2 linked regions of the Homo sapiens genome follow. The protein of the gene in region 1 interacts with the protein of each later gene in a pairwise test. Each region holds a gene or a part of one and is shown in the gene's direction. Other genes may lie near its edges.

Region 1 (7,025 bases):
GTGTCATGTGAACCTGCAGGCTGGCCCTCTTGCCACAGTTAAAACCACAGTCCAGATGTCAGATTTTACATAGATGTCTGTGCTGACGCAGTCCCGTTATGAAAAGATCTATTTTGTCATATGCACTGCTGTGGTGAATATAAGTGGTCTTGATGATTTCAGCCCTTGTCACATTGACTTTTCGCTGTCATGTATTCACTTGATTCGCTGGCAGGTCCCAGTGGGAATTCTTTTCATGGCATCTTTGTGTTTTGGTGACACCCAGGTGGATCCATAAAGAACCCAGCCAACCCGCAGAGGGAGGGGAGGGGCTGAGCTGTGAGGAGAGCGGGGCCCAAGAACCATGTCTACGCGGGAGTCCTTTAACCCGGAAAGTTACGAATTGGACAAAAGCTTCCGGCTAACCAGATTCACTGAACTGAAGGGCACAGGCTGCAAAGTGCCCCAAGATGTCCTGCAAAAATTGCTGGAATCTTTACAGGAGAACCACTTCCAAGAAGATGAGCAGTTTCTGGGAGCCGTTATGCCAAGGCTTGGTAGGTAACCCAGTGTTTCTTTGATGGTCTGCGATCCAATCAGTGAGTCAAAAACTGGATTTCTCGCCTCCCATGTTGCCTATTTATTTTTTATTATTACTTTTTTTGCTTTTATAGATTTGAGGAATACACATGCAGTTTTGTTACATGAATATATTACATAATGGTGAAGACTAGGCTTTTAGTGTAGCCATCACCCAAATAGTGTACATCGTACCCCCTTTATTTTTTTTTAATTTTTGTGGGAAGGATTAGAAGAGCAATCAATGTTATGATTGCTATGTTATGTTCTTGTAACTTATGTAGAGAAAGTACTTGAAACGCATCAAGAGGGGTACTCTTGACAGTTTTTAAATCATGGAGTATGCAATTGAGATTGTTATTACAGTAAAAACTTTTTAATTTTTATTTTCAATTTAATTGAATTGAATTTTCTGTTAGCTGAAGATTAAGCAGAAATACTTTATTCCCTTTTCCTAAAAGGACTCCTAAAATGCTCACATTCCCTTCATTGCCCTAGGAAAGGCGGTTCCAGCCTTAGGGTTCTTGTGCTGTACTTGGATGGCAGTGACTGTGTCAGGAGGGCATTGGGGTTCTCTGCAGGGTGCATCGGGCGAAAAGCGTGTTACGGTGAGGAGGTGGGACTGCTCCAGACCCAGGACTGGATGGATCTGTTCTTGACCCCAGGATGTCATCTGGAACCAGGGCAATGTCTTTTTCTTTACTACATTCCTGATGTCATGAGTGATTTCACTTTTCCCAAACACAGAGCTTAGAAACAAATTCTGGGCTCCTGGGATATTGTTTATTCATGTTTCTTGTGCAGTTTATTAAGTACACAGTACAAGACTGTGATCACTTTTCTTGTGTTCGACGCATAGTTTCGGAGGTTTGGATGTTCGATAATTACTGTGTGACTTGATCAGTTTTCTTCCTTTTTTTTTGAAATGGATTCTCACTCTGTCACCCAGGCTGGAGTGCAGTGGCGTGATCTTGGCTCACTGCAACCTCTGCCTCCTGGGTTCATGCGATTCTTCTGCCTCAGCCTCTTGAGTAGCTGGGATTATAGGCCCCTGCCACATGCCCGGCTAATTTTTGTATTTTTAGTAGAGATGGGAGTTTTACCATGTTGGCCAGGCTGTTCTCGAACTCCTGACCTCAGGTGATCTGCCTGCCTCAGCCTCCCAAAGTGCTGGGATTACAGGTGTAAGCCACCACACCCAGCCAAGGTTTTCATTTCATTTGTTTTTGCCCATTATTTGGTAAGGTTCATTGGTTATGAGCCTGGGGTCTCCTTTACTCCCAGATAGAGAAAGCAGATAAAAGCAGACTTGCTTTTGTTGGAAAGGAAGAAATGTTACACCCCAGTCGCTGGTGACCTGCAGGACTTTGAGGAGCTCAGTTTGAAAACAGTTCCTGCCGTCCAGCTGATGGCCAAGCTGTGGAGAAATACCATGTGAGCGAGCTGGGTTTGATGTTGGCTTATTTGTCGAGAAATGAGAATATACTGAGGAAGCTGTTAGATAACTGTCAAGAAAAAAAGCTATTAATACTTAATGCTCAAAAACCAATGAAATTAAAACATTACGGCATAAAGTAAGAATTACTATTTATAACTTCCTCTGGCACAGTTACTTACTAGTCACTCATATTATGTCATGAATGTCACCCAGCCCTCCTGAGCCTCAGCTTCCTAATCTATAAAATAATAATTACTGTTTGGGGTTGGGTGCGGTGGCTCACACCTGTAATCCCAGCACTTTGGGAGGTCAAGATGGGCAGATCACTCAAGGTCAGGAGTTCAAGACCAGCCTGGGCAAAATGGTGAAACCCATCTCTACTAAAAATACAAAAGTTACCTGGGCTTGCTGGTGTACACCTGTAGTTTCAGCTACTCGGGAGGCTGAGGTGGGAGGATCCCTTGAGCCCGGGAGGCAGAGGCTACAGTGAGCTGAGGTCACACCACTGTACTGCGGCCTGGGAGACAGAGTGAGACCCTGCCTCAAAAAAAAAAAAAAGATTACTGTTTTGCATTGTTGTACCAAAAATGTGTGTAGGTGTGCCATGTATGTCTGTACTTACATATATAATACATGTATGTGTATACCCTCTGTACACAAGTATATATGGTATATATGTATGGGTGTTTTTGACCTTTTTTTTGTTGTTGTTGAGATGAAGTCTCACTGTGTCGCCCAGGCTGGAGTGCAGTGGCACAATCTCAGCTCACTGCAACCTCCGCTTCCCAGGTTCAAGCAGTGATCTCCTGCCTCTGCCTCCCAAGTAGCTGGGACTACAGGCGCATGCCACCACACCCAGCTAAATTTTTTTGTGTTTTTAGTAGAGACGGGGTTTCAAGGTGTTGGCCAGGCTGGTCTCAAGCTCCTGAGCTCAGGTTATCCACCCACCTCAGCCTCCCAAAGTGCTGGGATTACAGGCGTGAGCCACCGCACCCGGCTGTATGTTTATTTTTTTAACTTTTTTTTTTTTTGAGACGGAGTCTCGCTCTGTCGCCCAGGCTGGAGTGCAGTGGCGCGATCTCCGCTCATTGCAAGCTCCGCCTCCCAGGTTCACGCCATCCTCCTGCCTCAGCCTCCCGAGTAGCTGGGACTACAGGCGCCCGCCACCATGCCTGGCTAATTTTTTGTATTTTTAGTAGAGACGGGGTTTCACAGTGGTCTCGATCTCCTGACCTCGTGATCCGCCTGCCTCGGCCTCCCAAAGTGCTGGGATTACAGGCGTGAGACACCGCGCCCCGCCATCTTTTTTTTTTTTTTTTCCTTGAGATAGAGTCTCACTCCATCACCCAGGCTTGAGTACAGTGGTGCAATCTCAGCTCACTGCAACCTCTGCCTCCCGGGTTCAAGGCCCTCCCAGGCCTGATTCTCATGCCTCAGCCTCCCTCCAAGTAGCTGGAATGACAGACGTGCACCACCACACCCAGCTAATTTTTTTGTATTTTTAATAGAGTTAGGGTTTCACTATGTTGGTCAGGCTGGTCTGGAACTCCTGACTCTAAGTGATCTGCCCACCTCGGCCTCCCAAAGTGCTGGGATTAAAGGCATGAGCCCCCGCGCCCGGCCTGTTTATGTTTTTAACTTTTTTCTAATTGAATGTCATGTTTTCTGGCTTCAAAAATGGTGTTAATTGAAGGGTTAACCAAAACAGCTTTTAAATGTACACACGATTACTAAATGTATCCTAATTAAAGAAATGGTAAAAGAAGTGTGCCTTAGAACCAGAGACATTTGTTGCCTGGTGCCTAGGAGCTATCAAGTAATGATTGCTGCTGCTGGCGGGGGCGGTGCAGGGGTTGGGGGTGGGTAGTGGTGTGATAACTTAGGTTGTCTTTCTGATGGAGGATGTCAGTATTGCTGAAAACCTTCCAGCAAGTTTGCCCATTGCCTCCTGGTCATTAAACCTAAACTGTTCTGTCTAGTATTTAAGGCTTCCCCGACCCTGTGGCATTTTCCTCTGTTCCCAGTTACCATCCCTCTGGACCGTCCCTCTGTCTTTCCATTTCAAACGCTAGTTTTTCAAGGCCTGTGGGCATCTCAGGCTCACCCCTTCTCTCTTCCTTCCTTGAAATGTGATTGGTGATTTCTAAACCAATCACTGTAGACCAGTGCTGTCCAAAAATACAATGCAAGCCACATGCGTAATTTTCAAATTCAAAGTAATATTTTTAAAAACCCGATAACAAAAATCAGGTGGAATTAATTATAATCTATTTTATTTAACACAATATATAAAAATGTCTTTTCAGTATGTATATATACGACATTATTAATGAGATGTTGGTTTTTGGTACTAGGTGTTTAAAATCAGTTGTCTGTTTTGTACTTACAGCACCTGTTTGTCAGATGCGCAGCCACCCCCTGTGTCTAGTGTCAACCACATTGGACAGCACCAGACCCTATTCTAGTAGACTGTGGTGGCACAGGTGTGAAAGAGAAACCGTGGATAACGGAGCTGCTTTTCAGCCCTAGGGGCGTGCTCAAGAATCCCCCGTTACTCTGATCAAAGGACTTGCTAAGTTTAGAAATAAAGCGCTTTACAAATCAAATGTATGTAATTCAAATTTAAGATTATTCAAATTAAGAACATTTAAAGCTAACATTCAGCAACAATTTTAGTTTCTCTTTCAGTAGTCCTCCAGTTTAAATGGAAGCCTGAAAGAAAACTGCCTCTTACTGTTTTCCAAAGTGAATAATAATATACTCAGAATAACCAGTTGTCAGAATTATCCATTTAGGGAGAATCCATTGAGTTAAAGAGTGGTATTTCTATTTAGGTGCTAAAGAGTGTGATGAAACAAATTTCTGAGAGGTTGTGCCCATGGGCTGTTTACGTGAATTATCTCACACGTTCTCCTCTGACAGATGAAAACTGATCCAGTGCCTGACATTGTTGAAACTTGCCATTCTGAACTTCACTTCTCCATTCCCTAAGCGAGGTCTTCCAGCAAGAGTTTCTGCTTTGTTATCTAGTGTGATAAAAATCAGCCTGTCTTCACAGACTATGGCTTTTTATTGAGTGAGATTTCATTTTTGCAGCAGGAAAGATCTGGTGCCTCCATGACCCGCCTCTGTGAGGTCTGCTGCTGTCATGAGACCGAGTGAGGCAGTGCTTCACGGCCCTTTCACTTACGCAGAATATTAAAGGTCGTTTTAGTGCGATTCAGATATGATTTAAACTTGTTTGAAATTCTGAATTTATAGGGTAGATTCAGGCACATAATTTGCTTCCTTTTGTCCTAATTCTGGCTTTTTCCCTGCTTTTGGCTATTGGGCTGCAAAGTAGAAGTACAGCATCCCCCTCTGTATCTGCAGAATCCTCGTGGGGGATTCAACCAACCACAGACTGAAAATATGCAGGGAAAGAAGTGGATGGTTGCATCTCAACATGCACAGACTTTTTTTTGTCTTGTCATTATTCCCTAAACAGTACAGCATAACAAATATTTACATCGCATTCACATCGTATTGGGTGTCATAGGTGATCTAGAGATGATTTAAGGTATGTGAGAAGATGTGTGTAGGTTATATGCAAATATTGGGACATTTCAAATCAGGGATTTGAGCATCTGTGGATGTTGGTGTCTGTGGGAGTCCTGGAACCAGTCCCCCACAGATACCAAGGAACAGCTGTCCTCATAAGAGGACAGAAGAGTGTCCTTCTGAGGGGTGTAGGGCTGCTCACTGTGTTCAGCTTTCTTGGTGGGAATGCTAGTCTGAGTTTGTAAAATGCCTGCATTACAAGTAATTTTTAAAGGAGTACAGCCTTATCTCCAAGACAAGGAGTAGCGTATCTTGACTACTACTGGTGGTCTTGGGACTCCTCTGACATAGATGCCAGAGTGTTTATATCCAGGCTTGATTGGAAATTTCCATTGAATTGTAGATTGGGATTTGTCCTTTCATTTCATCTGTGTGTGTGTCATTTTCACTTTTGACTAAAATGTATAAGTAATAATAGCATTTTTCAATGTAAAAATATTTTACATGGTTTCTGATGGGACAATACGATAATGTCTGTAAAGATGTACGCACAATAACTATACTTAAGATAACCCAAGTTCCATTTATAGGATTCTCATCTTCAAAGAAATTGTATACGGTACCAGTCACACGCTACAGTAATACAGTAAAATAATAAAAGTCATACAGTGAAAAAGATTTTTATTCAAGGCATCATTAAGGATTAAAACTATGCCATATTGGAGTTGAGTCTTGATGAGTAACATTTTCATTGGTATTTTCCATCCTAAGCTGGATATGTTTCACGTTTATTTCAGTTACGCTTCTTGATAGGAAACACATGGCTTCATTGGCAGCCTGCAGTTTCCATAAGTATCTTATGAGCTCTTCCTGTTCAGAGCACTGGTGATATAAAATGAAATGGCTTTCCCGTTTTATTTTTGGATGCTAATGACTTCCATCTCCACAGGCATTGGAATGGATACTTGTGTCATTCCTTTGAGGCACGGTGGGCTTTCCTTGGTTCAAACCACAGATTACATTTACCCGATCGTAGACGACCCTTACATGATGGTAAGCGTGAGCCGATGTGTTTTTGTGACTGGAAGGGCTTATTTGTTTGGTTTGGGTTGTGGCTGGGGTTTTGTATGTATCTGTGGGGTTTTGGTTTTATTTCTGTTATATCCCGACTATACTGCCCCACCCTGCCCAGACTCCTGCAGTTGCTGAAGTCAGGCCTGTCCCCTGCCCACACTTGGCACTGGGCATAAAGCAATTAGGGAGGAAGCAGGGAAGGCCCTCTGCTGCTGTTGCAACTGAGTACATGCTGTGAGTAAGAACACCTCTTGTTTAGTAGCATGTCAATGGCCTGTTTTTGTCATTTTCTTCTTTCTTGCACCTTCTCTTCTTTGACATTGGTAACCTCCATCACCCCTGTGTTTTAGGCTGGAGATGTTACTGTCCTCTGTAATAGGACTGATCCTAAATGTTTCCTTCAAGAGATTAAGGA
Region 2 (7,025 bases), on another chromosome or scaffold:
CTCTGGAGGCTGAGGCACGAGAATCACTTCAGCCTGGGAGGCGGAAGTTGCAGTGAGCCGACATCGCACAACCGTACTCCAGCCTGGGTGACAGAGCAAGACTCTGTCCCAAACAGAAACACAGCTACCCAGATAGTTTAGCTAGATACGGGTGCACAGATGAGACAGTGCGGCTCGGGGGCCTCAGGTAGGAACGGGATTGTGAGTGTCACATCTTAGAGCTGCTTGGCTCTGTAAACTTGTATGCAGTGTGTTGAGAACAATTCTATCTATCTGTGTATCTATCTACCTACCTACCTATCTATCTTCCTACTTCTTTGTCTCTCTCTATCTACCTACCTATCTGTATATCTATGTATCTACTTATCTACCTATTTATCTATTTATTTACCTACTTATCTATCTATCTATGTGTTTATTTATTTTTGAGACAGAGTCTCGTTTTGTAGCCCAGGCTGGAGTGCGGTGGTGCCATCTTGGCTCACCGCTACCTCAGCCTCCCGAGTAGCTGGGATGACAGGCACATGCCACCACGCCCACCTAATTTTTGTATTTTTAGTAGAGATGGGGTTTCACCATGTGGGCCAGGCTTGGTCTCGAACTCCTGACCTCGTGATCCACCTGCCTCAGCCTCCCGAGTAGCTGGGATGACGGGCACGTGCCACCACGCCCACCTAATTTTTGTATTTTTAGTAGAGATGGGGTTTCACCATGTTGGCCAGGCTTGGTCTCGAACTCCTGACCTCGTGATCCACCTGCCTCAGCCTCCCGAGTAGCTGGGATGATGGGCACGCGCCACTACGCCCACCTAATTTTTGTATTTTTAGTAGAGATGGGGTTTCACCATGTTGGCCAGGCTTGGTCTTGAACTCCTGACCTCGTGATCCACCTGCATCAGCCTCCCAGAATGCTGGGATTACAGGTGTGAACCACCGCGCCCAGCCAAGAACAATACTTTTTAAAACTTATTTTAGGCCAAGTGCAGTGGTTCACGCCTGTAATCCCAGCACTCTGGGATGCTGAGGTAGGCGGATCACGGGGTCAGGAGATCGAGACCATCCTGACTAACACGGTGAAACCCCATCTCTACTAAAAATACAAAAAATTAGCTGGATGTGGCTGTGGTTGCCTGTAGGCCCAGCTACTTGGGAGGCTGAGGCAGGAGAATCGCTTGACCCTGGGAGGCGGAGATTGCAGTGAGCTGAGATTCTACCACTACGCTCTGGCCTGACCGACAGAGCAAGATTCTGTCTAAAAAAGAAAAAAACAAAACAAAGAAAACTTATTTTAAGTAGAGACAGGGTCTCACTCTTTTGCCCAGGCTGGTCTTGAATTTCTGTCTTCAAGTGATCCTTCTGCCTTGGCCTCCCAAAAGGCTGAGATTATAAGCATGAACCTTCAGGCCTGGCCGAGAGAACAGTAATATTTATTTATTTATTTATGGAGTCTCGCTCTGTCGCCACCAGGCCTGGCCGAGAGAACAGTATTATTTATTTATTGATGGAGTCTCACTCTGTCGCCCAGGCTCGAGTGCAGTGGCACAATCTCGGCTCACTGCAGCCTCTGCCTCCTGGGTTCAAGTGATTCTCCTGTCTCAGCCTCCCGAGTAGCTGGGATTACAGGCTTGTGCCACCACACCCTGCTAATTTTTTTGTATTTGTATTTGTATTTGTTTTGAGAAGGAGTTTCACTCTTTGTTACCCAGGCTGGAGTGCAGTGGCACGATATCAGCTCACCACAACCTCTGCCTCCCAGGTTCAAGCGATTCTCCTGCCTCAGCCTCCCGAGTAGCTGGGATTACAGGCATGCACCACTATGCCTGGCTATTTTTGTATTTTTTAGTAGAAATGGGGTTTCTCCATGTTGGTAAGGCTGGTCTCGACCTCCCGACTTCAGGTGATCCGCCCACCCCGGCCTCCAAAGTGCTGGAATTGCAGGCATGAGTTACCACGCCCAGCTCAATTTTTTGTATTTTTTGTAGAGACGGGGTTTAACCATGTTAGCCAGGTTGGTCTTGATCTCCTGACCTTGTGATCCACCCGCGTCAGCCTCCCAAAGTGCTGGGATTACAGGCGTGAGCCACTGCACCCGGACTGAGAATAGTAATTTTTAATTATTTTATTTTTTTGAGTCGGAGTCTTGCTCTTTTGCCCAGGCTGGAGTGCAGTGCGCGATCTCGGCTCACTGCAATGTCTGCCTCCCGGGTTCAAGCGATTCTTCTGCCTCAGCCTCCCAGGTAGCTGGGATTACAGGTGTGTGCCACCATGCCCGGCTAATTTTTGTATTTTTAATAGAGATGGGGTTTCACCACGTTGGCCAGGCTGGTCTCGATCTCCTGACCTCGTGATCCACCTGCATCGGCCTCCCAAAGTGCTGGGATTACAGACATGAGCCACCGTGCCTGGCCTAGTAATTTTTTAAATGTCTCAGAACATCCACCAAGTCCAGGCTGTCCTAGAAGGACTGGATCGGAGTCAGTGGAAGGACTGGGCTTTCTGGTTCTGCTGTTCCTGAGGGTTCTGATGCTTGTTGCTGCCTGTGTGCTTCTGGACGTTGGGCTGGCAGGGCAGGATCAGAGGCTGCATAGCACCCTTGGTGGGGATGGGGCCATGGTGGGGAGAACTTGAGGGTCAGGGACCCCAGTCTCCCTTCTAGTCATCAATAGTAGAATCATGCCTCCTTGCAGGTGAGACCTTTCTGTGCTCCGTGTTGGTAACAGGAGCCTTGTTCTTTGTTTCTCAGGGCAGTTGGGTGAGAAGCAGCTTCCATCTTCAACCTCGGATGATCGGGTAAAAGACGAGTTCAGTGACCTTTCTGAGGGGTGAGAGAAGAGTGGGTTTAAACAGCCTAAAATTTCTCCTTCAAAAACCATCAGTGACCTTTCTGAGGGGTGAGAGAAGAGTGGGTTTAAACAGCCTAAAATTTCTCCTTCAAAAACCAAACAGCCATCGTAGGGTCGGCTGCCCATGCGCTGGTACCAAACTAAGCCATCACAGGGGCCGGCTGTCCGTGCCCTGGTTGGGACACGCCTCCTCTCGAGGTGGCGGGAGAGGAGGGGCTGGGGAGCTTCCGAGGCTTCTTGTCTCTGATTGATGGTTTCCTGGGTGCCAGAGAGCACTCCCAGACCTGAGGCAGCTCCAGAGGGAGCCTGATAGGGTTTCTGACCCAGAGCAGCCTAGAAATGAGTTTGTTGAAACCACTCTGGCTGGGTCCTTTGCTTCTGCTACTGTTTTAGGGCCATAGTTTTGTGTTCGCTCCAGATGTTTCTGGAGTAGAGAAACCCCGACTTTAGCCCTTGACTATGACACTGTTGTGGCTTGAAGCCGAGGCTCTGCGAGGAGGTGTTGCAGGAGGACGGGCCTCAGAAGGGACCTCATCAGTGTCTGCAAACTCCCTGGGCCACCCCTGCCTCTGAGCCAAGCGCCATTCAGGGCAGCTGTGCCAGGCTGGGGTTTGCACCGTTTCCACCCTCTCCTGTAAACCTTGGCTGCAACACAGATGCACCTCATCCAAATGAGGACACCCCAGTTTGGGGGCCAATCCCAGTGGGATGTGCAGTGATGAAATCGGGCAGGTGCCAGGAGGCACCTGGGGTGGCTAAGACTGTCCTCAGGACCACCAGGACACAAAACCGCAGCTGAGGTTATAGCATAAAGGCCACAAATCTTTTTTTTTTTTTTTTTTTCCTTTTGTGAACTTTTTTTTTTAGACCGAGCCTTACTCTGTTGCCCAGGCTGGAGTGCAGTGGTGTGACCTCAGCTCACTGCAAACTCCACCTCCCGCGTTCAAGTGATTCTCCCGCCTCAGCCTCCCGAGTAGCTGGGATTACAGGCGCCCGCCACCACACCCAGCTAAGTTTTGTATTTATTTATTTTTTTTTTATTTGAGACGGAGTCTCGCTGTGTTGCCCAGGCTGGAGTGCAGTGGCACAATCTCGGCTCACTGCAAGCTCTGCCTCCCGGGTTCACGCCATTCTCCGGCCTCAGCCTCTGAGTCGCTGGGACTACAGGCACCCGCCACCACGCCCGGCTAATTTTTTGTATTTTTAGCAGAGACGGGGTTTCACTTTGTTAGCCGGGATGGTCTTGATCTCCTGACCTCGTGATCCGCCCGCCTCTGCCTCCCAAAGTGCTGGGATTACAGGTGTTAGCCACCGCACCCGGCCAATTTTTGTATTTTTAGTAGAGACGGGGTTTCACGGTATTGGCCAGGCTGGTCTTGAACTCCTGACCTCATGCGATCCACCTACGTCACCCTCCCAAAGTGCTGGGATTACAGGAGTTAGCCTCTGCACCCAGCCACTTTTGTGAACTTAGAAGTGACTCATGGCAAACCCATCAGTTGCATAGGGTTCGCAGTTATGGGGTGAGGTGGTCGATTTCTCAAAGTCTGCTTAGCAGGAAGCTACCTTTGAGCGCCTCCACCCCTTCTGGGCCGCTGTGGAAAGGGCTGTTTCCAAGTCCAGTGTCCTGGTGCCCAGAGCACATGGCTTGTGGGGATTGCTGGCTTGTGAGCCTGGCTGGCCCTTTGTGTTCGGAAACGGGATTGGAAATTTGGGGATTTTAGATTTAAGACATTTTCAGAAGAACTCAAATGTGGGACATGGGGGTCCATTTGGTATCTTTAGGCAGGAGGTCGTGTTGGGTCTGTCACTGCCCAGGCCCAGGGCTTTGCTGAAGATTCTCTCTTAATTCCTAGAGACGTCTTGAGTGAAGATGAAAATGACAAGAAGCAAAATGCCCAGTCTTCGGACGAGTCCTTTGAGCCTTACCCAGAAAGGAAGTAAGTGGGCAGCCCGGGGTCTGCTGGAGGCATCCGTTGGGCGACCTAGACACCCGCCTGTGCTCCAGGGCCTCTCCCCGGTGCCCACTCAGTTCACTCTCTCGTGTGCGGATCTCCCGAGCCCAGTGAAACGTGGCTTCCCTCAGTGAGCGGGAGGCGGGGGAGGGGCAGGCGGGCAGGTGAGAAGGTGGGTCCTCCTGGTGCTTTGGAGCTGGGACCTGGTCTCGGCACTGTGAGGCTGCCTCAGAGTCCCAGCAGTGGATGGCAGGTGTCTCTGTCGACAGAACCCCGCCTTGCTTGAGAAGGAGGCTCTTACGTCCCTTCTGCCGGTCCTGCCCTGGGTTCACACCCCAGTGTACCCCCGAAGCCCCCAACCCGTCGCTTCTGCTTTGTGTGCGTCCCCAGAGGCCCGAGGACCCAGCTCTGTCATCCTCCCAGTTCTGACCCCATCACTGATGTCCATGGCCAGGCAGCCACGGTCCACTTCCCTGTTGAATGACTTCTGTGAGCTTGTTTTGACTTTGTTTTTAGGGATTTTTATTTTCTCTCTTCAGTTAGAACACAGGCCCTGGTAGTGAGGGCTGGTTTTCACTTGTGCTGTTTTCTTTGCAGCCCTATACCCAGCAGTACCCAGAACACTCCCAGGTAGTTGGTGACTGACCCAGTCCCTGTCCTTGAGCATTTCACAGCCCAGAACAAAGGTCCAGAGGGCAGGTGGCTCTGAGCACCACCGTCAGCCACTAGAACCCTGCTGTGCAGACTGAGAGGTCAACGGCCTTTTTTCATGGAAGTTCTGATGCTGTTAAGTTCTGAAAAGAGAAACGGGAGCAGTGGAGGAGGCCCGGAGAGAGATGCGAAGCAGAGGGCAGGACTGAGCCAGAGGGGCTGCAGCAGCTTCAGCATGAACAGAAAACTGGTCAGGCCCAGAAAAGGTGCCCGGGGGTCCCTACCCCCAGGCTTGTTCCCAGGAGTCATGGCTGGGAGTGCCGCCTGAGGCTGCTGTACGGAAGCCCCCACTCCGTGACCCTCCGGGTTGAGTCTGAATCCCAGGACACCTGAGAATGTGTCTCTGGCTTGCTGCCCAGAAGGTCTGGGGCTGCTGGTGTGAGGAGGGCTGGGAGCTGGGATGGGAGGAGCCAGGCGAGCCTTTTCCGGATCGAGGCAGATTCAGGAGGGGAGGGTCCTCTCTGCTGAGCCCCTGCTGCTGTGACAGGGACAGCACACTCAGACTGTGTCACTAGTCCCTCTGGGACCCCAGGAGTGCAGACAAAGACGTGCTTTGGAACAGAGACACGGGAGATACGTTTTCAGAGGTCTCTAATAAAAGGGGTGACTTCAGTGGAAACCGCTGCGCAGGAGGCAGGACTGGGTGGTAGCAAGCATGGCCTCCTGACTGCGGCGAGTACCAGGGGCACTTGGTTCCCCAGCTGCCACCGTGAGACCCCCCTGGGAACCCAGAAGGGCCTCTGCACAGCCCCCGGCCCGTGTGCTGCCTCCCAGTCTTGTCAACCCTGACCTTGGAGTTCTAGCGGGCGTGCCCGCCTGTGTCCTCAGCTGGGGGCGCATGAGAAGAGACTTCTGTGATGTGTTAATGAGGGGTCAGTGGTTCCCGCCAGAGGGGAAGGCCAGGGCCTGCACCCCCATGGGGAAAGAACTGACAGGCAGCAGTGAGGCCTGAGCCCAGCCCACCCGGTCCGCAAAGATTCCCGTCCCAAACACGAGGGCACAGAGACTGCGGGTGCTCTGAAGCCTCCTGTGCTGAGGAGGTGAGTGGTCATTGTGGGAACGGCATGGCCAGCCACTCACAAACAAGGGGCCACCCAATCCAGGCAGGCAGGGCAGGTGAGGGGGACATGTGGCTAGGTCATGAAAACCAGTTATTAGGGACAGGGAGAGAAGGCGCAGCCTGTGCGAAGTCAACAGTTCTTCTCAGTGCGTTTTTGTCTTGTTTCTGAGATGGAGTCTTGCTCTGTTGCCCAGACTGGAGTGCAGTGGCACGATCTTGGCTCACTGCAACCTCCGCCTCCCGAGTTCAAGTGATTCTCCTGCCTCAGCCTCCTGAGTAGCTGGGATTACAGGCATGTGCCACCATACCTGGCTAATTTTTGTATTTTTAGTAGAGATGGGATTTCTCCCACGTTGGCCACACTGGTCTCGAACTCCTGACCTCATGATCCGCCCGCCTCAGCCTGCCAAAGTGCTGGGATTACAGGCGTGAGCCACCGCGCCGGCCTCAATGCACT

What was found. Proteins that work in one complex are often made in the same cells at the same time.
Region 2: the proteins of SEPHS1 (region 1) and ZNF276 interact in binary tests that used the Homo sapiens proteins (3 or more experiments, as listed by UniProt).

What each region holds. Positions count from the first base shown.
Region 1 is NC_000010.11:13,338,269-13,345,293, reverse strand, and holds part of SEPHS1 (selenide, water dikinase 1), read left to right. Parts: intron 1-265; 5' UTR 266-343; coding exon 344-536; intron 537-4,385; exon of another isoform or gene 4,386-4,603; intron 4,604-6,485; coding exon 6,486-6,589; intron 6,590-7,025. UniProt on the Homo sapiens protein: Synthesizes selenophosphate from selenide and ATP.
Region 2 is NC_000016.10:89,724,537-89,731,561, forward strand, and holds part of ZNF276 (zinc finger protein 276), read left to right. Parts: intron 1-2,742; coding exon 2,743-2,821; exon of another isoform or gene 2,822-2,890; intron 2,891-4,698; coding exon 4,699-4,782; intron 4,783-5,394; coding exon of another isoform or gene 5,395-5,431; exon of another isoform or gene 5,432-6,127; intron 6,128-7,025. UniProt on the Homo sapiens protein: May be involved in transcriptional regulation.